Linked DNA regions of Homo sapiens: all the other regions are linked to region 3. The links come from fine-mapping of genetic effects on gene expression. A gene starts in region 3. Each other region holds a variant in brackets. All regions are shown on one strand. Distances are between the middles of the regions. Region 1 overlaps STYXL1 (serine/threonine/tyrosine interacting like 1). Region 2 overlaps SRRM3 (serine/arginine repetitive matrix 3). Region 3 holds the start of MDH2 (malate dehydrogenase 2).

Evidence for each region. PIP is the estimated chance that this variant, and not a neighbour inherited with it, causes the effect.
Region 1: its variant is fine-mapped to the expression of MDH2 in skeletal muscle (GTEx, PIP 0.97).
Region 2: its variant is fine-mapped to the expression of MDH2 in skeletal muscle (GTEx, PIP 0.98).

The regions. Positions count from the first base shown.
Region 1 is chr7:76,008,247-76,016,431 of GRCh38, reverse strand. STYXL1 (serine/threonine/tyrosine interacting like 1) reads left to right here. Exons shown (of 9, transcript NM_001317785.2): 5 at 2,545-2,690. Among named protein-coding and RNA genes, the nearest start is that of TMEM120A, 18 kb to the right of the region's middle. RefSeq lists an enhancer at 7,767-7,946. The variant T/C (reference allele first, on the strand shown) is at 3,165.
Region 2 is chr7:76,236,429-76,244,613 of GRCh38, reverse strand. The region is part of intron 2 of SRRM3 (serine/arginine repetitive matrix 3); the gene reads right to left. Among named protein-coding and RNA genes, the nearest start is that of SRRM3, 39 kb to the right of the region's middle. The variant C/T (reference allele first, on the strand shown) is at 3,656.
Region 3 is chr7:76,043,199-76,051,379 of GRCh38, reverse strand. MDH2 (malate dehydrogenase 2) reads right to left here and starts at 3,274. Exons shown (of 9, transcript NM_005918.4): 1 at 3,154-3,274. The coding sequence starts at 3,219. It overlaps STYXL1 (serine/threonine/tyrosine interacting like 1), which reads left to right and starts at 3,380. Exons shown (of 9, transcript NM_001317785.2): 1 at 3,380-3,718. RefSeq lists enhancers at 2,343-3,124, 3,400-3,479, 3,590-3,679, 3,125-3,907 and a silencer at 2,990-3,149.

The sequences.
Region 1 (8,185 bases), 35 kb after region 3:
TATATATGTGTATACGTATAGATATACGTATATATACACACATACGTATATACGCTATATATGTGCACACATACGTATAGATATACGTGTATATATACACACATATGTATAGATATACGTGTATATATACACATGTATGTATAGATATACATATATACACACATACATATAGATATACGTATATCTATACACACATAATTATATATATGTATCCCTATACATGTACATATGTATAGATATACATATATCTATAAATGTACATATGTATATACTTATATCTATACATGTACATATGTATAGATATATGTGTGTGTATATATATGCGTGTATATGTAGATACATGTGTATCTATATATATGGGAGTTTGTTAAGGAGTATTAACTCGTGTGATCACAAGGTCCCACAATAGGCTGTCTGCAAGCTGAGGAGCAAGGAAGCCAGTGTGAGTCCCAAAGCTGAAGAACTTGGAGTCCAATGTTTGAGGACAGGAAGCATCCAGCAAGGGAGAAAGATGTAGGCTGGGAGGCTAGGCCAGTCTAGTGTTTTCATGTATTTCTGGTTGCTTTATGTTGTAGCTGTACTGGCAGCTGATTAGATGGTGCCCACTCAGATTGAGGGTGGGTCTGCCTCTCCCAGTCCACTGACTCAAATGTTAATCTCCTTTGGCAACACCCTCACAGACACGCCCAGGATCAGTACTTTGCATCCTTCAACCCAATCAAGTTGACACTCAGTATTAACCATCAGAGGTTGTTTGGTTTTTGCTTCTTGATTTCAGTTCCTTATAGATTTTGGATATTGGATCTTTGTTGGATGCATAGCTTGTGGATACTTTCTCCCATTCTGCAGGCTGTTTGTTTACTCTGGTAGTTTTTCTTGCTGTGCAGAAGCACTTTCGTGTCCTTAGGTCCCACTTGTCAATTTTTGTTTTGTTGCAATTGCTTTGGAGGACTTAGCCAAAAATTATTTGCCAAGGCCAATGTCAAGAAGGGTATTCCCTAGATTTTCTTCTAGGATTTCTATAGTTTTCAGGTGTTACATTTAAGTCTTTAATCTATCTTGAGTTGATTTTTGTATATGGTGATAGGGGTCCAGTTTCATTCTTCTGCATATGGATAGCCAGTTATCTTAGTACCATTTATTGACCAATAAGTGGGAGTCCTTTCCCCTTTCCTGTTCTTTGAGACAAGGTCTTGTTCTGTCTCCAAGGCTGTAGTGCAGTGGCACGACCATTGCTCACTACAGCCTCAACCTCCCTGGCTCAGGTGATCCTCCTGCCTCAGCCTCTCTAGTAGCTGGAACTGCAGGTGCCCGCCACCACACTCAACTAATTTTTTGAATTTTATTTGTGGAGGCGGGGTCTTTCCATGTTGCCTAGGTTGGTCTCAAACTCCTGGGCTCAGGCAATTCTCCTGCCTCTGCCTCCCAAGGTTCTGGGATTATAGATGTAAACCACCATCCCCAGCCTCCATTGCTTATTTTTGTCAACTTTGTTGAAGATCAGATGGTTATAGGTGTGTGGCTTTATTTCTGGGTTATCTATTTTGTTCCATTGGTCTATATGTTTTGAATTGCACACTTTAAATGGGTGAATTGTGTGATACACAACATACAGTTGACATATATATGTGGTATAAATATAATATATACATGTATATAATATGTAAACCATATGTATGCATATGAGTGGTTAACGAGCTGGCAGTTTCTGTAAACTCTGAGATATATGTATTGTATGACATCATACAATACATATATCTCAGAGTTTGCAGAAAAGAAGATTAACTTAGGCTGAGCACACCTGTAATCTCAGCACTCTGGGAGGCTGAGGCAGGTAGATTGCTTGAGCTCAGGAGTTCAAGACAAGCCTGGGCAAAAAAGTGAGACACTGTCTCTACAAAACAATACAAAATTTAGCCAGGTGTGGTGGTGCGCACCTATAGTCCCAGCTACTCGGGAGGCTGAGGTGGGAGGATGGTGTGAGCCCAGGAGCTGGAGGTTGCAGTGAGCCGAGATTGTACCACTGCACTCCAGCCAGATGGAGTGAAGCCCAGTCTCAAAAACAAAAACAAAAAAAACCCGGTGGTAAGCTACTTTTAAAATTTTAATATGATGCATCTCTATACTTGCTTCAGCTTCCTAAATAATTGCATTTCAAGCCGGGCATGGTGGCTCACGCCTGTAATCTCAGCACTTTGGGAGGCCGAGGCTGAAGGATCACCTGAGCTGAGGAGTTCAAAACCAGGCTGGCAAACATGGTGAAACCCTGTCTATACTAAAAATAAAAAATTAGCCAGGCATGGTGGGCGCCTGTAGTCCCAGCTACTTGGGAGGCTGAGGCAGGAGAATCGCTTGAACCCAGGAGGCAGAGGTTGCAGTGAGCCGAGATCGCACCACTGCACTCCAGCCTGGGCGACAGAGTGAGACTCTGTCTCAGAAAATAAATAAAATAATTGCATTTCAGAAGAAAGTGGTCATCTATCCCAGCTCTAGACCAATGGCAGATACACAGGAGACATTCATGTCTTTGGTCTCCACTCTCAGATCTTGTGCCTCAAGCAGCCATTGAGTATGGCAGGATCCTGACCCGCCTCACCCACCACCCCGTCTACATCCTGAAAGGGGGCTATGAGCGCTTCTCAGGCACGTACCACTTTCTCCGGACCCAGAAGATCATCTGGATGCCTCAGGTAGGGCCAAATGCTGAGCACAGGCAGGCCCAGACGGGAAGGATGGGCCTAGAAACTGACTTGTGGGTGACTGAGTGGGAGAAACAGGAGGATGGGACAGAGGATATAGAGAAAGTGGAGGAGATTCTGTCTATACTAAAAACACAAAAATTAGCTGGGCGTGGTGGTGCGTGCCCATAGTCGTAGCTACTAGGGAAGCTGAGGCAGAAGAATTGCTTGAACCCAGGAGGCAGAGGTTGCAGTGAGCCAAGATCATGCCACTGTACTCCAGCCTGGATGACAGAGTAAGACTGTCTCAAACAAAAACAAAAACAAAAACAAACAAAAAAAAAACTAGATCTGGACTCCTGGCAGCCCTAAGTTCATGTCTGCAGCCCAGTCTCCCCCATCTCCTCCACTTTTTTTTTTTTTTTTTTGAGACGGAGTCTCGCTCTGTCGCCCAGGCTGGAGTGCAGTGGTGCCATCTTGGCTCAC[T/C]GCAAGCTCTGCCTCCCAGGTTCACGCCATTCTCCTGCCTCGGCCTCCCAAGTAGGTGGGACTACAGGCGCCCACCAGCACGCCCGGCTAATTTTTTGTATTTTTAGTAGAGACAGGGTTTCACCCTGTTAGCCAGGATGGTCTCGATCTCCTGACCTCAAGTGATCCACCTGCCTCGGCTTTCCAAAGTGCTGGGATCACAGGCGTGAGCCATCCTGCCCGGCCACAGTTCTTTATAAGGAACTGATGGCTGTCGGGTTGAAACAGTGAGCAAAGGTGGACCCATTCAGAGGGCAGGCTGGATGGTGGACCGATACCAAGGTCAGAAAGGCAGGGGCATGGCGGCTCGAGACCACCTCTTTTTTCTTGGCTGTCTGATTCCACAAATCCTAGCTGGATCCAGAGGATACAAAAATACACAAAAGTGGGAAGGATTGGTCAGGCACGGTGGCTCACGCCTATAAGCCTAGCACTTGGGGAGGCCAAGGCAGGAGGATTGCTTTAGCTCAGTACTTTGAGACCGGCCTGAGCAATATAGTGAGACCTTGTCTCTACAAAAAAATCAATAAATGGAGCTGGCTGTGGTGGCTCACGCCTATAATCCCAGCACTTTTGGAGGCCAAGCTGGATGGATCACTTGAGCTCAGGAGTTTGAGCCCAGCCTAAGCAACATGGCAAAACCCTGACTACCAAAAATACAGAAATTCACCGGGCATAGTGGCCCACCTGTCTTGTAGTCCCAGTTACTCAGGAGGGTGAGGCAGGAGAATTACTTGAACCCAGGAGGAGGAGGTTGCAGGGAGCCGAGATCACACCACTGCACTCCAGCCTGTGTGACAGAGTGAGACCCTGGCTCAAAAAAATAATTTAGAAAAGAGATGGGTGGATTGCTTGAGCCCAGGAGGTCGAGGCTGCAGTGAGCCGTTGCCATGCCACTGTACTCCAGCCTGGTTGACGAAGCAAGACCCTGTCTCCAAAAAAAACAAAAAGAAAATCAGCCAGGTGTGGCGACTCACACCTGTAGTTTTAGCACTCTGGGAGGCCAAGGCAGGAGGATTGCTTGATCTCAGGAGTTCAAGACCAGCCTGGGCAGTATAGTGAGACCCCCATCTCTATTATAATTCTTTTTTAGTAGAGACAGGGTTTCACCATGTTGGTCAGGCTGGTCTCCAGCTCCTGACCTCAAGTGATCCACCTGCCTCAGCCTCCCAAAGTGCTGGGATTAGAGGCGTGAGCCACTGCACTCAGCCTATTTTTTAATACAAAAAGAGAATCAGATATTAAACCCCTTTGTCCATCACCTAGCTCCAAACATTGTCAACTCATGGTCAGTTTTGTCAAAACAAAACAATTTTGAGATTCCAGTTTCTGCTGATGACTGGTCCTGTCTGTAGGGGAGGCAGTGGCTGGAAGCTGGACTGTGTCAAGGGACGCCCCGGGTATCTGGAGCCCAGAGAAGGGGCACTTGAGCTTCCCAGAGCCAAATCTGACGGAGGAGGAGATTTCGAGGAAGAGAACTGGGTGGAGTTGTCTAAGGCTAGCACCAGACTATGCAGAGATTTGCAGGCAGGGCCTGGTCCCTGGAGAGTGCCGTGTACAGATGTCTGGCTTATTGAAGCGTCTGAACACAATGGAATGTAAACAGAAAGTGGTTTTAACTTTTTCTAACAGTTGCCTTCAGCTGTGTTCCCCTTCCTGCCCTTAGCAACATCGTGAGCAGATTCCATACTTTCTGGCCACTTTTGGTTACAAAAAACTTCAATCGAAATCATAGTATAGAATGACTGGGCAAATGTGACTATTCACAGGATGTTTGACTGTGTTTAGGAATTGTTGCTTTTCGAAGGTTGTAGTGACATTGTTATGGTTATTATAAAGTACAAGTCCTTATCTTTTAGAAATACAGAACAAAATATTTACGGGTGAAATGACGTGATGTCTGGAATTTCCTTTCAAATAATCTGGGGTGAGGTGAGAAGGCAGTGAGGGTATAGAGGAAACAAAATTGGCCAATGAGTTGTTAATGTTTGAAGTTGGGCGATATATACGTTTTAGAGACAGGGTCTCACTCTGTTGCCCAGGCTGGAGTGCAGTGGTGCAATCATAGCTCACTGCAGCCTCCACCTCCTGGGCTTGGTATCCTCCAGCCTCAGCCTCTTGAGTAGGTGGGACTACAGATGCATGCCACCACAGTCAGCTAAGTTTTAAAATTTTTTGCAGATACAGGGTCTTGCTATGTTCCCCAGGCTGGTCCAAAACTCCTGACCTTAAGCAATCCTCCTGCCTTGGCCTCTCAAAGTACTGGAATTATAGGCATGAACCACCACACCTGGCCAACTAGTGTATAGTTTTGAAATAATGTTAAAGGAAGTAAAAAGACAGTCTAGTAGAAGCTAGGGCGGTTTAATGTTCCAACCTCAAATCTGAATCAAGTCTCATCTCTTCCCATGCCCTAGAGCTGGGCAGCCTAGGGTTTGCTGGGGGCACTCAAAGTAGGGAGGGATGGGGGTTAGCTTTAAGGACAGCTGCTCTCTTCCCCTCTTCTGGGCAGAGTACCTTTGGCAGTAGGGCCCAGAGTGGACCTGTCTGTGTGCCTGGCTGCGTGTTAGTGGTGGGAAAGTGCCTGCTCTCTGGCCCCGTCTGGCTGTGTGAGCTGCTGGTAGCCTCTGCTGCTGGGTTTCTCGGGACCCAGCTCAGCCTCACCCTGGCTCCTTCTGGGGCTGAGGATCTCCCAGAGAACGCAGCCAGTGGTGACTCCCTTCAACCCCTGCCAGGCATCTCCTCCAACTTCCTCCCCTTAACTTGGAAGCCCATGACCCGTCCCCTGCCCCGCATGCCCACATTCCTTCACCGGAATCGTAGAAGGCAGGGACTCATGCCTGAGGTCAGACATGTTCCCAGATCCAGGGTATGCATGCCTGGCTCCCAAAGACATCCCTTTCTTCCACTGAGATAACAGCACTGTGAATTTCAGCTCAACAGGTGTACAGTCAGTTAAATAAAGGAAGTAAAGACAATCAGTCTAGTATAAGCCAGGGCAGTTTAATGTTCCAGCCTCAAATCTGAATCAAGTCTTATCTTGATTGGAACTCCTCCTTGCTCCTCCTTGCTCTTGGAGGAGCACCCTGGCTTTGCAGGGTGCAGAGAGATTAATTTCTTCTCTGCAAACCCTACGCTGCTGATAACTCATCACTGCCACCTCCTCATTTCTGAAGCTTTAGTAAGGTGTAATTGACATGATGAACTGCACATATTTAAAAGGCCCGGTATGGTCCGTTTTGACAGTTGCATATTCCTGAAACTTGCCTTTGCTCCTAGTCTAGTCACATTGGGAAGAAGGCGCAGGGTTGTGGCTAGGGTAGCTGTGAGGGTTGGATTGGGTTACTTGTTTGCAGCTGTCTTTAGAATGTAGGTGACTGGCCAGCTGTGGTGGCTTAAGCTTGGAATCCTAGCACTTTGGGAGGTCAAAGAGGAGGTGGAAGGATCACTTGAGTCCAGGAGTTTGAGACTAGCCTGGGCAACATAGTAAGACCTTGTTTACACAAAAATTTTTTTAAAAGGCTGGGCTTGGAGGCTCACGCCTGTAATCCCAGCATTTTGGGAGGCCAAGGCGGGCGGATCACGAGGTCAAGAGATCAAGACCATTCTGGCCAACATGGTGAAACCCCATCTCTACTAAAAATACAAAAATTAGCTGGGTGTGGTGGCACATGCCTGTAATCCCAGTTACTCAGGAGGCTGAGGCAGGAAAATCAATTGAACCCGGGAGGCGGAGGTTGCAGTGAGCTGAGTCACACCACTGCACTCCAGCCTGGGTGACAGAGTGAGACTCCATCTCAAAAAAGAAAAAAGAAGAAAGAAAGATTTAGGAGGTAGCACCGATCAGACATGAGGGCATAGGAGAGAGAGGGGGCTGGGATGATGCCCTGGTTTTAGGCGTGGGTGACGGGGGCTGTGATGTGGTTCATTCTGGGGAACACTCGGGAGGGGGCGGGGTGGGGGAAGAAGGAGGTGGTTTTGGGGGAAGGCAGTGTGCCCAGTTCGGGCATATTCATTTGAGATACTGGTTTCGTTTGCATTGTGTCACTGAGCATTTACACACATTCTACAGTACAGTGTGTTTTTATCCACATCACACCCTCTTCCCAGCCAAACCCACACAACCGCAGAAAAGGAAGCTGGTTTAAAAACAGCAGGAAGAGGGGTTGATAGATTTGCTATGGGATTTTTGTGGGGTTTTTTTTGTTTTGTTTTGTTTTGGTTTTTTTTTGAGATAGCATCTCTGTTGCCCAGGCTGGAGTACAGTGGTACAATCTGGGCTTACTGCAACCTCCACCTCCTGGGTTCAAGTGATTCTCCTGCCTCAGCCTCCAGAGTAGCTGAGATTACAGGCGTGTGCCACCACGCCTAATTTTTATATTTTTAGTAGAGATGGGGTTTCACTATGTTGGCCAGGCTGGTCTTGAACTCCTGACCTCAGGTGATCCACCTGCCTCAGCTTCCCAAAGTGCTGGGATTACAAGCATCAGCCACCATGCCTGGCCTTTTAGCGAGATTTTTAAGTGGAAATTGAAAGGGGGATTTCATTTGGCACCAGCAAGCTGAGCGTCCATCCGGGTTAGGGGCAGCCCACATGCTGGAGTAAATTGGGCCTGCCCGCAGGCAGTGGGGGGTCATGCATCTCCGTGTCACAGGCTGGAGAACTGGCTCAGCTTGGTGTCTGTTCTTTACTAATGGCTTTCGAAGCTGGTAGCTTGGGAAGGATGTGGGCTTGCAGAGGGTTCACTGCCGTGGGGAAGGGAGTGAGATGTGCTGAGTTCAGGTGGCTCTGAAGGACCCACACGCCTGAGGTCCTTAAAATGTTATTTCTGAGTCAGACTTAGAGCCAGGGGACTTTTGGAACTGATTTTGATCTTTGGCAAAGGTCAGCATTTTCTGTGGTGTAATAATGGAGAAAGTGGTCTCTAATCAGAGCCTCATGGAAACATCAAGTTATCCAGTTGGAGTGGATTTCTCTACTG
Region 2 (8,185 bases), 190 kb before region 3:
GGGACCAATTGAATGAGTCAGGAGGTCTGGTTGGGTAAGAAGCATCACCTACTTCTTCTTCTTCTTCAACTTTTTTTTTTTTTTTTTTTTGAGATGGAGTCTTGCTCTGTCGCCCAGGCTAGAGTGCAGTGGCACAATCTCGGCTCACTGCAACCTCTGCCTCCCAGGTTCAAGCAATTCTCCTCCTTAGCTTCCCGGGTAGCTGGGACTACAGGCATCCGCCACCATGCCCAGCTAATTTTTGTAGTTTTAGTAGAGATGGGGTTTCACCATGTTGGCCAGGCTGGTCTCAAACTCCTGACCTCAGATGATCCACCCACCTCGGCCTCCCAAAGTGCTGGGATTACAGGCATGTTCCACTGTGCCTGGTCACCACCTACTTCTTAAGCAGGTGTCCCCTGACCCCCAGCTAGGGTCGGAGTCTGTGTGGGTTCAGCCTGCTGTGTCGCTCACCGTGGGGAGGGCTGGGTCCTGGCCTGGTTAGGGGTGGGGGGCTTTTCTTCTAACCCCCCATCCCCTCGTGGCTCAGGCCACCCTGCACTGCTGCCACCAACCTAGCTCCACCAAGTTCAGGGCCCTGGCTCCTCAGTGTCCACCTCAGTCCCTGTGTGGCCCTCAGACTCGGGCATTCACCTGGAGGTCCCTTGTCTGGGCATGTGAGTTGGGCAGTGCAGAGCCTGGCACCCAGGAAGAAAGGGTGGTGCCCCACCCCCCCAGCAGAGGCAGAGAGCAATTGCTCCCACATCACCTTCTCTTGCAGAGACTAGCTTGTCACTGTCACCAGCACAGAGACAAACACAGCACAGGCCCTCCAACACTGCTTAGCCCCTAATTTATAGGCCCCACAGAGGGAGACAGAGACTGGCATGGGACCCTGGGCCAGGTGGGTGGGAAGAGATGGCCTAAGGGTGAGGGTGGGCCATTCCCCAGCTGCTTGTGGGGGGCTGGCAGGGGGTTTCAGGCCAGGATCCAAGCCCCCTTTCCTGGGGGTCTTTGGCACATGGAAGGCTGGGAAATGGGCACAAATGGGTTTCAGGGAGACCTGCAGCGGCATATATGCAGGGCTGGGGGTCGTCCTGGAGTCAGTGGGCTGGAGGCAAGTTGATGAACTCCAGCACCTGTCTGTTGAGGATGGGCTGCTGGATTGAACCAACTCAGAGGCTTGGGGAGGGTCCCTCTGTGCCCCAGGGTATCTTGTTGGGAGAAGCTGGGGACACAAGGATGACACCTGGTGATTGGTCTCATGTGACCACCACCTCTGAGTGTCCTTTCCCCTCTTATCTCTTGGAATCAATCTTCTCAGCTGAGCCACTTGGGACAGTGATGACGGGGAGAGACAGAGGAGCCCAACAGTCCTGCTTTTGAATCCTGGCACCTCCCACTTCCCAGTTCTGTGGCCTTGGGCAAGTCCATGTGCTTCTCCCAGCCTTAGCTTCTAATCTGTGAAATGGGAACAGGACCCACCTTTCAAGGTTGTCATCTGGATATTAGTCCCCTCCCAATCTCATGTTGAAATGTGATCCTCAGTGTTGGAGGTGGGGTCTGGTGGGAGGTGTTTGGGTCATGGGGGTGGATCCCTCAAGAATGGCTTGGTGCCCTCCCCATGGCCATGAGTGAGTTCTCACTCTATTACAGAGGTTGCTGATACCTCAGGTTGGGGTACCACTCTGTGGCCTATTAGGAACCAGGCTGCACAGCAGGAGGTGAGGAGCAGGCAAGGGGGCAAAGCTTCACCTGTATTTATAGCTGCTCCCTATCACTCCCATTACCACCTGAGCTCCACCTCCTATCAGATCAGTGGTGGCATTAGATTCTCATAGGAGTGGGAACCCTGTTGTGAACTGCGCATGCGAGGGATGTAGGTTGCACGCTCCTTGTGAGAATCTAATGCCTGATGATCTGTCACTGTCTCCCATCACCCCAGATGGGACTGTCTAGCTGCAGGAAAACAAGCTCAGGGCTCCCACGGACTCTACATGATGGTGAGTTGTAGAATTATTTCATTACATAATACAGTCTAATAATAATAGAAATAAAGTGCACAATAAATGCAATGTGCTTGAATCATCCTGAAACCATCCCCCCACCACCCCGCCTAGTCCATGGAAAAATTTTCTTTTTTTTTTGGGAAACAGAGTTTCATTCCTGTTGCTCAGGCTGGAGTGCAAAGGTGCAATCTCGGCTCACCACAACCTCCATCTCCCCGGTTCAAGCGATTCTCCTGCCTCAGCCTCCCAAGCAGCTGGGACTACAGGCATGCGCCCCCACGCCCAGCTAATTTTTGTATTTTTACTAGAAATGGAGTTTCTCCATGTTGGTCAGGCTGGTCTCGAACTCCCGACCTCAGGTGATCCACCCACCTCAGCCTCCCAAAGTGCTGGGATTACAGGCGTGAGCCACCTCGCCCAGCCAGAAAAATTTTCTTCCACAAAACTGGTATCTGGTGCTGAAAAGGTCGGAGACTGCTGCTCTATTAGTTTAGGAAAGAGCTGATTGTTTTAAGGAGTCTGGGGTGTCTCTCCTCTCCCTCTTTCTCCCTCTGGTGCCATGTGAGACATGCTGGCTCCCCTTCTTTTCCATCATGACTAAAAGCTTCCTGAGGCCTCACCAGAAGCCAATTGGATGCCAGCGCCATGCTTCTGTACAAGCCTCTAGAACCGTGAGCCAAGTAAACTTATTTTCTTTATAAGTTACCTAGCCTCAAGTTTTCCTTTAGAGCAATGCAAAGTGGGCTAACACAGACGTGATGTATTTACATCACTTTGCACAGTGCCTGGCATATAGTAGGTGCTCAATGAATGGTAGCAACTGGCCAGACACAGTGGCTCATGCCTGTAATCCCAGCACTTTGGGAGGCCAAGGTGGGTGGATCACTTGAAGTCAGGAGTTTGACCCCAGCCTGGCAAACATGATAAAACCTTGTGTCTGCTAAAAATACAGAAATCAGCTGGGCGTGGTGGTGCGTGCCTGTAGTCCCAGCTACTCGGGAGGCCAAGGCAGGAGAATCACTTGAACCCAGGAGACAGAGGTTGCAGTGAGCTGAGATTGCGCCATTGCACTCCAGCCTGGGCAATGGAGTGAGACTCTGTCTCAAAAATAAATAAATAAGTAAATAAATAAATAGTAGCAACTGAAGCTTATCTGTCCCAGAGCAGTGGGGACAGAGTGTACAGTCATCCCAGGCTCCCTGCCCTTTTCCATCTGAGACCCCTGCCAGGTTGGCATGGCACCAGCTCCGAGAATTGCCTGGGCCTCTTCTCTGTCTGTTCTGCCAGGAGGCAAAGGCTGGGATAAAGGGGGAGGCTGCTACCCAAACCACTTGCTCCCTGTGGAGGTGGCAGAGCCGGCCAGCCTAGGGCCATGCAGGAAGGCTGGCTAGCATGGCCAAAGCTTCAAACTCAAAGTCAAGGGTTTCTAGGCCGGGCACAGTGGCTTATGCCTGCAATCTCAGTACTTTGGGAGGCCGAGGCGGGCAGATCACTTGAGGTCAGGAGTTTGAGACCAGCCTGGCCAACATGGTGAAACCCCATCTCTACTAAAAATACAAAATTAGCTGGGCATGGTGGCATACACCTGTAATCCCAGCTACTTGGCAGGCTGAGGCAGGACGAATCGCTTGAACCTGGGAGGCGGAGGTTGCAGTGAGCCAAGATGG[C/T]GCCATTGCACTCCAGCCTGGGTGACAGAGGGAGACTCTGTCTTGAAAAAAACAAAAAACCAAAAAAACAACGTCAAGGGCTTGTGTGTGGGTGGGGAAGGGGGAATAGGGGGCAGTGATGTCTGTCCCAGGGTCCCCAGCCTCTTGGCCCACGTGTTCCCCCAGCCAGTCTGGCTCCCTTAGTCCTCATGCCACTCTATGGGCCATAAGGGAAGGGCATGCCAAATGCATTGTGGCTTTGGGGATTTCCTGGGTCGCTCTCTGGGACAGGAGTAGGGTGAGGGGACACTGAATTTTAAGAGTTCCTCAGAGTGAAAAATGTTTTTTTTTTTTTTTTTTGAGATGGAGTCTCGCTCTGTTGCCCAGGCTGGAGTGCAGTGGCGCAATCTCGGCTCACTGCAAGCTCCGCCTCCCGGGTTCACGCCATTCTGCTGCCTCAGCCTCCTGAGTAGCTGGGACTACAGGCACCTGCCACCACACCCGGCTAATTTTTTGTATTATTAGTAGAGAAGGGGTTTCACCGTGTTAGCCAGGATGGCCTCGATCTCCTGACCTCGTGATCTGCTCGCCTCGGCCTCCCAAAGTGCTGGGATTACAGGCATGAGCCAATGCACCCGGCCTATTTTTAATTTTTAAAAGTAGAAATGGAGTCTTGCTATGTTACACAGGCTGGTCTCAAACTCTTGGCCTCAAGCAATTCTCTCACGTCAGCCTCCCAAAGTGCTGGGATTACAGGAGTGTGCCACTATGACCAGCTAATTATTATTATTATTATTATTGTTATTATTATTTGAGACAGAGTTTCACTCTTGTTGCCCAGGCTGGATTGCAATGGCGTGATCTCAGCTCACTACAATCTCCACCTCCTGGGTTCAAGCGATTCTCCTGCCTCAGCCTCCTGAGTAGCTGGAATTACAGGCGTCCACCACCACACCTGGCTAATTGTTTTGTATTTTTAGTAGAGATGGGGTTTCATCATGTTGGCCAGGCTGGTCTCGAACTCCTGACCTCAGGTGATCCACCTACCTTGGCCTCCCAAAGTGCTGGGATTACAGGCATGAGCCACCACGCCCAGCAATTTTTTATCTTTTGGTACAGACAGGGTCTCCCTATGTTGCCCAGGCCTCCTGGCCTTAAGAAAACCTTCTGCCTTGGCCTGCCAAAGTACTGGGATTACAGGCATGAATTCCTACATTAGGCCAGACAGTGACCTTTTGTTTTGTTTTGTTTTTGTTTTTGTTTTTGTTTTTTGTTTTTAGATGGGGTCTTGCTCTGCCACCCAGTCTGGAGTGCAGTGGTGCAATCATAGCTCGCTGCAGCCTCGACTTCTCAGGCTTAAGTAATCCTCTCACCTCAGCCTTCTGAGTAGCTGGGACCACAGGCATGTGCCACCACACCTGGCTAGTTAAAAAAATTTTTTTTTGTAGGTGGATTGGCAGGGGGCTCACTATGTTGCCATGCTGGTCTCAAACTCCTGGGCTCAAGTGCTCCCTCCTCAGCCTCCCAGAGTGCTGGGATTATAGGCATGAGCCACAGCGGCTGGAATGGTAGCCTTTTGATTCCCATTTTATAGATGAGCAAACAGAACAGGGAGAGGGGAGGGAGGGCTCAAAACTCCAAGCCTAGGCTGGGTGCGGTGGTTCACACCTGTAATCCCAGCACTTTGGGAGGCCGAGGTGGGTGGATCATCTGAGGTCAGGAGTTCGAGACCAGCCTGGCCAACATGGTGAAACCCCGTTTCTACTAAAAATACAAAGAATTAGCTGGGTGTGGTGGCGTGCTCCTATAGTCCCAGCTACTCGGAAGGCTGAGGCAGGAGAATGGCTTGAACCTGGGAGGTGGAGGTTGCAGTAAGCCGAGATCGTGCCATTTCACTCCAGCCTGGGCAACAAGAGTGAAACTCCGCCTAAGGGAAAAACAAACAAAGCTCCAAGACTAGCTAGGGATGGAGCTGTGCTCTGTCGCCTCACCCAAGTCCTTACAAGAAGAGGCATGGCGTCTGGGCATGGTGGCTCATGCCTGTAATCCCAGCATTTTGGGAGGCTAAGGCAGGTGGCTTACTTGAGGTCAGGAGTTCAAGACCAGCCTGGCCAACATGGTGAAACCCCGTCTCTACTAAAAAGTACAAAAATTAGCCAGGTGTGGTGGCATGTGCCTGTAATCCCATCTACTCAGGAGGCTGAGGCAGGAGAATCACTTGAACCCAGGAGGCAGAGGTTGCAGTGAGCAGAGAACATGCCACTGCACTCCAGCCTGGGTGACACAGCGAGAATCCATCTCAAACGAAACAAACAAACTAAAAAAGAGGCATGGCAAGAAGATAAACAGGGTGGCAGGGAGGATGCTGGGGGCTGGGGTGGGAGCATCTCGTCAGAAAGGCTGGAGGCTCCGTCCCGCCCCGCGGTGATTGCAGACTGCAAGCCAAGGCTGTCTGGGAAGGTGACTCCAAGTACGCCATCAATCACCAGTGGATTAGCCAGCCAGCCATCAATATTAAGGAAAAGGATTGCTTTTTAATGAGGCCAAAGAGTGTGTGTTCCTGTGACTGATGTGAATATTTGTCAAATGCCCGAGAACCCGGTAAATAAACGGGACTGAACCAGTGTTTCTAGAAATGGATATTAATGACTCGATTTGATAAAAGAGCAGGGGTGCCTGGTGTTTGCTGGCACTTTGTGAGGACTGGCTGGGGGCTGGGCAGTCCCATGTGTGTCTTCAACGGAGGACTCTCAGAACAGCTCCAGAACACAGGTGCCCCTATTTTCCAGGTGAGTAAACCGTGGCTTGTTCAAGGTCAAGATAGGGCTGGAAGCCTGGATTTGGGAGTCTCAGAATGCCTGTCCCTGCCATGATCAAATGCCCTGCTGAGGATGGGGAGGGCAGGGGGAGGGCCATTCAAGAGCTGGTTTTTCAGAGGTGGCTCCAGGATAAGGACCACCTCAAGTGAGAGCTTGGGTGGGGGAAGGGACCCTGACTGAGCAAGTGGGGACATAGTGGGTGCTTCCCAGGGAAGCAAGGATCCTTGATGCTGGGGGTCTTACACCCAGGACGTGGCCAAATGCCATCACCTTTTGCTTGGGGAGGGGCTCAGTGAGGGAAGGTTCCTTGAAAGGGTGAAGGTCTTTGAGGGGGAGGGCTTTCAGGATGGGAAAGTACAGAGAAGAGGAGGGGACTTAGTGAAGGGAGAGGGGCTGAGGATGGGGATGGGTTCATCAAGGAGGTGGAGTTCTGGGAGGAGGAGGAGCAGGAAAGTGCAGGGAACACCTTGTCTGTCCCTGTCAACCCTCTTGTCCTCTGCCCACACTCCCCTCCCTCCTTGACTCTCCAGACAGAATTTCGCAGAATTTGCAGGTTTTGTTTGTGTGTTTGTTTTTGTTTTGTTTTGAGATGGAGTCTCCCTCCGTTGCTCAGGCTGAAGTGCAGTGGCGCAATCTTGGCTCACTGCAACCTCTGCTTCGCGGGTTCAAGCGATTCTCCTGCTTCAGCCTCCCGAGTAGCTGGGACTACAGGCGCTCGTCACCATGCCTGGCTAATTTATTTTTATTTTTATTTTGAGACGGAGTCTTGCTCTGTCACCCAGGCTGGAGTGCAGTGGCACAATCTCAGCTCAGTGCAACCTCCGCCTCCGGGTTCAAGCGATTCTCCTGCCTCAGCCTCCTGAGCAGCTGGGACTAGAGGTGCATGCCACCATGCCCGGCTAATTTTTTGTATTTTTAGTAGCGATGGGGTTTCACTGTGTTTGCCAGGATGATCTCGATCTCCTGACCTCACGATCTGCCCGCCTTGTCCTCCCATAGTGCTGTGATTGCAGGCGTGAGCCACCGCACCTGGCCTTTTAAATTTTTTTGTATTACTAGTAGAGATGGGGTTTCACCATGTTGGCAAGGCTGGTCTCGATCTCCTGACCTCAAGCGATCTGCCCACTTCGGCCTCCCAAAGTGCCGGGAGCCACGTGAGCTGGTACAGCCGTGAGCCACCGAATCTGGCTGGATTTGCCGGTTTAATTCACGACCTGAGGTTCTCACTGTAGGAGATGCTCCCCACCTCGCCCCTCCTTGCCCCTGCCCCTTGAGATCTCATTCCCTCTTCCGGTACCCACAGCTCATCAACATGTTCCCTTGCCAGCTGGAACCTCCTTTGTGTGTGTCCTCAGCATCCTGCCATCCATCCATCCATCCCTCTCTGCAAGGGGCCTCCTCCCCGCTACCTGGTCCTCTGGGTGAGGTGAGCATCAGGTCCCCATTACCCCTTCTTCTCCCTACAAGCAGCCTTGCCTGGCAGCCAGCAGGGCTCTTGATCCTGGCTCCGCCTTGGCCCCCCGCCTTCCGGATGGCCTTCAGCAACTCGCTGTCTCTGCCTAAGCCTGGGGGTCTTCCTAAGCTCCTCAGAGATGGTGGCCCCTGTCTAAGGGAGCCCAGGAGGCCTGGGGTGGACAAAGGTGTGGCTTGGAAGGACTGAAGGACACAGGCTGTGTCTGGCCCCATGTGGCTCCAGGCTCCAGCTCCCCGCCCCCCCACCCCGTGTAGGGAA
Region 3 (8,181 bases):
ATTGCACTCCAGCCTGGGCAACAAGAGCGGAACTCCGTCTCAAAAAAAAAAAAAAAAAAAATCCAAAGTCTGGAGACCACTGCACCATGGGCTCAAGCCCATCTTTCTTTCTGCTTTCATCAGCTGCCTTCTCAACAATGTCGCTTGTATGCCCAACAGGCATTTTAAATTGAACATATGAAAAACTGAGATCCTGGCCGGGTGTGGTGGCTCACGTCTATAATCCCAGTACCTTGGGAGGCCAAGACAGGTGGATCACCTGAGGTCAGGAGTTTGAGACCAGCCTGGCCAACATGGCGAAACCCCATCTCTACTGAAAATACAAAAAAAAATTAGTTGGGCGTGGTGGCAGCACCTGTAATCCCAGCTACTCAGGAGGCTGAGGTGAGAGAACCACTTGAACCCAGGAGGCGGAGGCTGCAGTGAGCCGAGATCACGCCACTGTACTCCAGCCTGGGCAACAGAGCGAGACTCTCAGTAAATAAATAAAAACTGAACTCCTGATATCTTCTCCCTGGTTAAACCCACTCTCTTCTATAAGTCTTGCCTATTTCAGCCCAACTCCAAGGCCCAAAACCTTGGTGTCATCCCCGACCCCTTATCTAATCACACATCAGCAAATCCTTCTGGTACCATCAATGAATACCCAGAATTCAATCATTTCTTACCACCTGCACCTAGATAACCACAATGAACTCCTAACCTACCTTTCTCTCACTCCTAAGACCATCTTGTTAAAATGGAAGGAAGAGCAAGTCATTACGCAGCTGAAAACCCTCAACTGGCCGCCCCATTTCTGAGAAAATACCAAAGTTTTACAAGGCCTGTTCTGTTACCTCCACTGCCTTCTCTGGAACTACCCTAGCCTCATTTTCTCAAACCTTCAAGGCATGCCCCATGCTTCTCCAAGGGCTCTCAGCTACATCCTGAGACATATCCCTTACCTGCAATACTCTTTCCATATGATGTGATCTCTGCTTCCTTCAGACTTTACTCAAACATCTCACTCTGCGTGAGGCCTACCCTGGCTGATGTAAAACTGCTACCCTCGGCTGGGAGTGGTGGCTCACGCCTGTAATCCCAGCACTTTGGGAGGCCAAGGAGGGTGGATCACTTAAGGCCAGGAGTTTGAGACCAGCCTGGCCAACATGGTGAAACCCCATCTCTACTAAAACTACAAAAATTACCCAGCTGTCGTAGCCCTTGCCTGTGATTCCCACCTACTCGGGAGGATGAGGCAGGAGGATAGCTTGAGCCCAAGAGTTGGTTGCAGTGAGCCAAGATGGCGCCACTGCACTCCATCCTGGGCAACAGAGTGGGACTCTGTCAGGTCCATCCTGGCCAACATGGTGAAACCCCATCTCTACTAAAAACACAAAAATTAGCTGGGCACGGTGGTGCGCGCCTGTAGTCCCAGCTATTCGGGAGGCTGAGGCAGGAGAATCGCTCCAACCTGGGAGGTGGAGGCTGCAGTGAACCGAGATCACGCCACTGCACTCCAGCCTGTCGACAGGGCGAGGCACTGCATCAAAAAAAGTAAATAAAATTGGTACCCTCTTCCCTAACACAAGCACCCTACAATCCCCATTTTTCTTGCATGTTCATCACTATTTTAAGATACTTTATAATGAGTGGGGCAATAAGTAAAATATCTAGTAATTTCCGTGAGAGCAGGGACTTCTGTGTTTTGTTCACCGCTGTATTTCCAGTACCTAGCTCAATAAATATGTCGGATATCTGAAGGTCCTACCAAAACTCAACCTCTCCCTGGACACCCCTGTCCTCTCTTTGGTTGGCTGCCCCTCCCCCACACCTCATCCCTCCTGTCCTGTTTACTCATTCCCTAAGACCTTCATCGCCTCCACCTGTCCTAAGTTTACTCATTCCCTAAGACCTTCATCGCTTCCACCTGTCCTAAGTTTACTCATTCCTGTCCCATATCAAGTGTCACTTCTCACTTATCTTGGTATCCCCTGCAGCACCCAGCATAGTTGTTGGCAAGCACAGGTACTTAATGTACTTATCTGTATACAGCTGGGCCCCCACTTCACCGCAGCGCAAAAGCATTTGGTACATTCAACTTACAATGGGGTTGCCTGTGGGAACCCATTGCAAGTTGAAAATACACAAAGTTAAACTCGCCTTTTGACTTAGGATATTACCAACTTGCGATGGGTATGGGAAGTAGCCATCAATCCAGGAGCATTTGTATTTATTTTTCAAATGAACTGGATGTACAGGAAACTCGAGAACTTCGATGATAAATTTGGATTCCCCTTTAAAATTACCTCCCTCTTGGGCGTCGTAATTAAAAGGCAATGCGAGCACCTCCTGGGTTCTCAAAATTAGGTTTAATTAGATTCACCTGGTAAAAATGCGGACCCCCCCCCCCCCCCCCGCAGTCTTAAGCTTCTTCAATGAACCCAGACGTCTGTTTTTTATTAGCTTTCTGGTGATTCTGACACACTGCAGAGTTTAAGAACCACCATTCTAGAAGATGGCTAAAAATAGCCTAGGCTCCTAGGCTTAAGTGGTCGCGGGCCAAGTCAAGCACTGTTAAGACACCTGGCGGCAGGCTCAGTCCGCCCACAGCAGGAGAGATCCTCCAAAAAGGTTAAGAGGAAGCCGTCTTCAGGTCAGAAGCGCTGAATTCTAATCCTCTGGCCAAATGACTGTAACCCTGGCCCAGTTCTCTAGCCTCGGTTTGTCCATACTATGGAATTAGGAAGTATACGATTTCTTTTATTCACGCACAACTCACACGGATGCTGCAAGGAGATTAGCTACGTCAAAGCAATGGAACGCTGCAGAAAAAAACGTAAGTTTACTTTCAGATGCAGAGCCCTGGTTTCCCAACCTTGAAGGCGTGCAAGCCAAGAGCAGGTCCTCTGGGAAATCTGGGAGACCTGGGGGAACCCTGACAAATGGACCGGCCCTGGAGCGGGACTACCTCGCCCCCTTTTCCCCGGCTTTCTCCCCCGCACCTCCAGGCCAGTGTCAGGGCCTGCCCCGGGCGCCACAGTCTCCAGCCAGTGCCGGGCATCCCTGCGGTCCAGGCTGGCCTGGAGAGGGTCAGAGCTGCCCGCGAACCGGGGACGCACGTGGCCCGGGCCGGGGGGCCTCCGCCTGCAGGCCGCCCCTCGTCTGGCCTACCTGGGCCGAGGTGCTGAAGCTGCGGCGGAGAGCAGCGCTGGCAGGCCGGGCGAGGGCGGAGAGCATGGCTGGAGCGGGAGGGGCACCGACTGGCAGGCACAGGAGCTGGTGACGGGGAAGTGACTCCAACGACCTCCACACTGCCCAGCGCCTGCTCTCTGGGGCCTCGCGAGAGTGACCGGACTTCCGGTCGCGCTCGCCTCCGGGATCTCGTGAGATCACGGCCACTTCCGGGAGTCGGAAAGGAAAGCTGTGGGACCATCCTGGCAACCCCGGTGTTTGGCTGGGTTCTAGCGTAGCCGTCTGTGTGGCCGGTGGGGGACCTGCGGTCGGAGTGGGAGGGCCAGTCTGCACCCAAGAGGTGGAAGAGGACGGGCTTTAGGCTGGAAGCGCCTTAGAGGAGCCATTTTTCCAGGTGGGGCCCCAGGCAGAGGCTCCGACAGGGAGCCTGGCCATAGTCGCGCAGCCGGGGAGGTGGAGCGCGTCCCAGACCCGAGCCCCCGACCTCAGCCAAACCCATTCCTTCTGCCCTTGGAGGCCAGAGGGGACTCTGAGCTCCGGAAAGGTAGGGTCAGGGAGGCTGAGAGTCCTTAGGCGGGGTGGGAGGAAGGGGCCATCTCCTCAGATCCGGGCCGTCGTTTCCCAAGTTGCAGAGACCCTTGGGTTCAGGTTTAGTGACACCACTGCTGATAATGGCGACCTCCAGCCCTGCAAGCTTTAGAGGACCACTATTCTGTGTTCCAGATGAGCAAATAGGTTGTAGGGACAACAACTTCCGTGGTCATACAGTTCCTGTCTTCTCTCGCCTGCCCGGCAGTGCTCTGACGGTCCCACTGTTTCTGCTTTACGAATAAAGACACTGTGGCTGAGGCCAAGTGGATTTGTAGAGTTTACGCAGACAGAAAGTCGAGTAGAATTCCTTGCTCACAATGAGTTTATTACTTAAATGTATGAATTTATTTATTTTTTTGAGACGGAGTCTCTCTAGCCCAGGCTGGAGTGCAGTGGCGCGATCTTGGCTCACTGCAACCTCTGCCTGTCAGGTTCAAGTGGTTCTCCTGCCTCATTCTCCTGAGTAGCTGGGATTAGCGCACCACTACACCTGGCTAATTTTTTGTATTTTTTTTTTAGTAGAGACGGGGTTTCACCACGTTGGTCAGGCTGGTCTCGAACTCCTGACCTCGTGATCCACCCGCCTCGGCCTCCCAAAGTGCTGAGATTACAGGCGTGAGCCACCGCGCCCGGCCTGATACATATTTTTAAAATTAAACAACACCCCCAGGCAAGGTGGCTCATGCCTGTAATCCCAGCACTCTGGGAGGCTGAGGCGGGCCGATCACTTGAGGCCAGGAGTTCATGACCAGCCTGGCTAACATGGTGAAACCCCATCTCTACTAAAAATACAAAAATTAGCCCAGCGTGGTGGTGTACACCTGTAGCCCCAACTACTCCGGAGGCTGAGGCAGGAGAATCGCTTGAACCCGGGAGGTGGAGGGAGGTTGCAGTGAGCCGAGATAACCCCACTGTACTCCAGCTTGGGCGACGGAGAAAGACTCTGTCTCAAAAAAAAAAAAAAAAAAAGCCGGGTGTGGTGGCTTATGCCTGTAATCCCAGCACTTTGGGAGGTCAAGGCGGGCAGATCACCTGAGGTCAGGAGTTTGAGACCAGACTGGCTAATGTGGCGAAACCCCATCTCTACTAAATATACAAAAATTGGCTGGGCATGGTGGCGTGTGCCTGTAGTCCCAGCTACTCAGGAGGCTGAGGCAGGAGAATCCCTTGAACCCAGGAGGTGGAGGTTGCTGTGAGCCAAGATTGTGCCATTGTACTCCATCCTGGGTGATAAGAGCTAAACTCCGGCTCAAAAGCGCGCGCGCGCGCGCGCGCACACACACACACACACACACACACACACACACACACACACACACACACACACACACACACACACAGCAGATAAGCTGAGACATGCTGGAAGAGTAGGTGTTTCTCAATGGAACATTCAACTCCAGAGGAGGGAAAGATCCCTTGCCTTGGAATCAGAATTCTCAAAGGAGGGGCACTAGGGCCTGAGCATTTAACAATGGGAAATGTTTAGACAGGAAAGGAGGAGAAAAAAGGCCAAATAAAATCCTAGCGGGAAAAAATAAGCATAGGCCAGTATTCAGGGGACAGTGAATAGATCATTTATTTTGGAGTGGGGACATTAGGGCAAGCAGTGTCCTTTGTTTATCTTATCACTGACTGCATCTTCTGGTAATTATTTACTCCTCTGTCTTGTAACTGAGAGCACCTCAGAGCCAGGTATTAAGTCTTGCCAGGTACTAAGTCTTTCTTCTGTTTTTTTTGTCCAACATGCGACTGGGCTGAAAGGGCCTCAGTGAATTTGTGGAGAGTTGAGTGGTTTTAGGTACAGCTGGAAACAGCAGGTTGGGAAAAACTAGATTGTGCCGGTCCCATGAATGTTAGCTGAGAAGTTTGTATTTCATTTCTTGGGAAGCAAGTGTTTATCAAAGGTTGTTTATTTATTTGAGATGGAGCCTCACGCTGTTGCCCAGGCTGCAGTGCAGTGGCGCGATCTCGGCTCACTGCAACCTCCACCTCCGGGTTCACGCAGTTCTCCTGCCTCAGCCTCCCAAGTAGCTGGGATTACAGGTGTGCACCACCACACCTGGCTAATTTTTGTATTTTTAGCAGAGACAGGGATTTGTCATGTTGGCCAGGCTGGTCTAGAACTCCTAACCTCAAGTGATCTGCCCGAGTCAGCCTCTCAAAGTGCTGGGATTATAGGCGTGAGCCACTGCACCTGGCCAATCAGGCTTTTGTGACACTGCCAGAACTGTGTTTGAGGAAGATTAGACTGACCTTGTATGCTAAGAATTCCCAGGAAAAAAAAAATGGAGATTGTTTAGGAATCTATTCAGGGAGATTGTTTAGGAATCTATTTTATGGATGACAAAGGTCTGAATTACGGTGGTGGCCATAGAAATGGAGTGGGTAGGGCCAGTGTGGGAGAAGTCTCATGGGAAGAATGGGTAACAGTCTGTGCTCATCTGGGTTTGAGGAGTGAAAGAAAGAGGTGTGGAAAATACATAAAGAGGGAAGTCGGGTTATACAAAGGAGAGGAGAAAAATAAAGGAGGTTATACCAAAGGAGAGGAGAAAAAATAAAGAGTTCCGTTTTAGATGGGCTTAATTGGGAGTTATGCTGAGTTGTCCATATAGACCTTTCAGTGGTATGGGCCGTGTTCATGCCTGTAATCCCAACACTTTGAGCAGCCAAGGCGGACGATCACTTGAGCTCAGGAATTCAGGACCAGCCTGGGTAACATGGCAAAACCCCATCTCTACAAAAAGTACGAAAATTCTCTGGGCGTGATGGTGTGTGCTTGTAGTCCCAGCTACCCAAGAGGCTGACATGAAACAATCGCTTGAGCTCAGGCGATCGGGGGAGGTCAAGGCTGTAGTGAGCCATGATTGTGCCACTGCATTCTGACATGGGTGACAGAGCAAGATATGTCTCATTTAAGGGGGGAAAAAAGGAACTGTGGGATTGAAACTCAGGCCAGGGCGGAAGTCACCTCTGTAGAGGGGGAGAGTTGAGACCATGAGCAATAAACTGGAATCACAGATTGTCAGGCTCCCTCCCACATCTGGAATTCAGTTTCCTCCACATCCCTCCCAAGTCCTCATCTCCACAGAAGAGGAACTCGCTACCTCCCAAGCCTTCTACTTGGGCCATCCCAAACAACTTGACTGCTAGAAAAGCCTCACATTTGGCCCAGTGCAGTGGCTCATGCCTGTAATTCCACCCCTCTGGAAGGCCAAGGTGGGAGGATCGCTTGAGCCCAGGAGTTCAATACCAGCCTGGGCAACACAGGAGACCCTGTCTACAAATAATAAAAATTAGCCAAGCATGGTGGTATGTGCCAGTGGTCCCAGTTACTCAGGAAGCTAAGGCAGGAGAATTGAGCCTGGGAGTTTGAGGCTGCAGTGAGCTGTGTTTGCACCACTGCACCCCAGTCTGGGTGACAGAATGAGACCTTATCTCAAAGGAAAAAAACATAAAAAGCCTCACACTCAGCTCCTATCTGCCTCTCTCTAAGGAAATACCAAGGTAATTAACAACAGTCTTATTGGCTGCTGTATGAAGCACTGTGTGGTAGGCATTGATTTTACTTGGTGTTTTGCAAGTGAAACTTATATTAAACAAGCAGGGTTTCCACAGTCAAGAAGTAGAATTCAATCATGCAGCAGCTTTCTGTCTTTAAATCTTTGCTTGCCCTTGGATTGTGTCTGGTTACTAGGACAGACTTACTGTCCAGTTCATGTTAATAATCAAAACTAGGAATTTAATTCAAAGGTAAAGCTGCTTCTCTTCCCCTCTCAAGCTTTCTTTGGGCTCCCACATTTGAGGAGGACAGTAGTTGACTTCTGTTTATTTTGTTTCCTCTTCCATCCCACCCCAGCCCAGGCCAACTATGGCTTCTGAGGCATCCTGTGTTGGTGGAGGGGGTTATAAGAGAGTAGAGATGGGGCAAGAAAAGCCCCTTCGACATCTGGCCTTGTTACTGTCTCAGCTTGATGGGAATTTGTAACTGACTCTCCCATGCAGTGCTTCTGGGGGTCTTTCTTACCTCCAGTTCCCATGATCAGGTGGCCATCTCAGTCTTGCTGCTTCAATTCCTCCCTCAGCCCCTGGCTTCTGGAATCCTCCACCACATGCCATTGGTCCATTTTCCCTCTCGGTGGCCCTCTTGGGCAAAGTTCCTTTAAAATGGCTTCTCGGCTGGGTGCGGTGACTCACGCCTGTAATCCCAGCACTTCGGGAGGCTGAGGTGGGTGGATCACCTGAGGTCAGGAGTTTTGAGACCAGCCTGCCCAACATGGTGAAACCCCATCTCTACAAATACAAAAAATTAGTTGGGCACGGTGGCGGGCGCCTGTAATCCCAGCTACTGGAGAGGCTGAGACAGGAGAATTGCTTGAACCCAGGAGGCAGAGGTTGCAGTGAGCCGAGATCATGCCA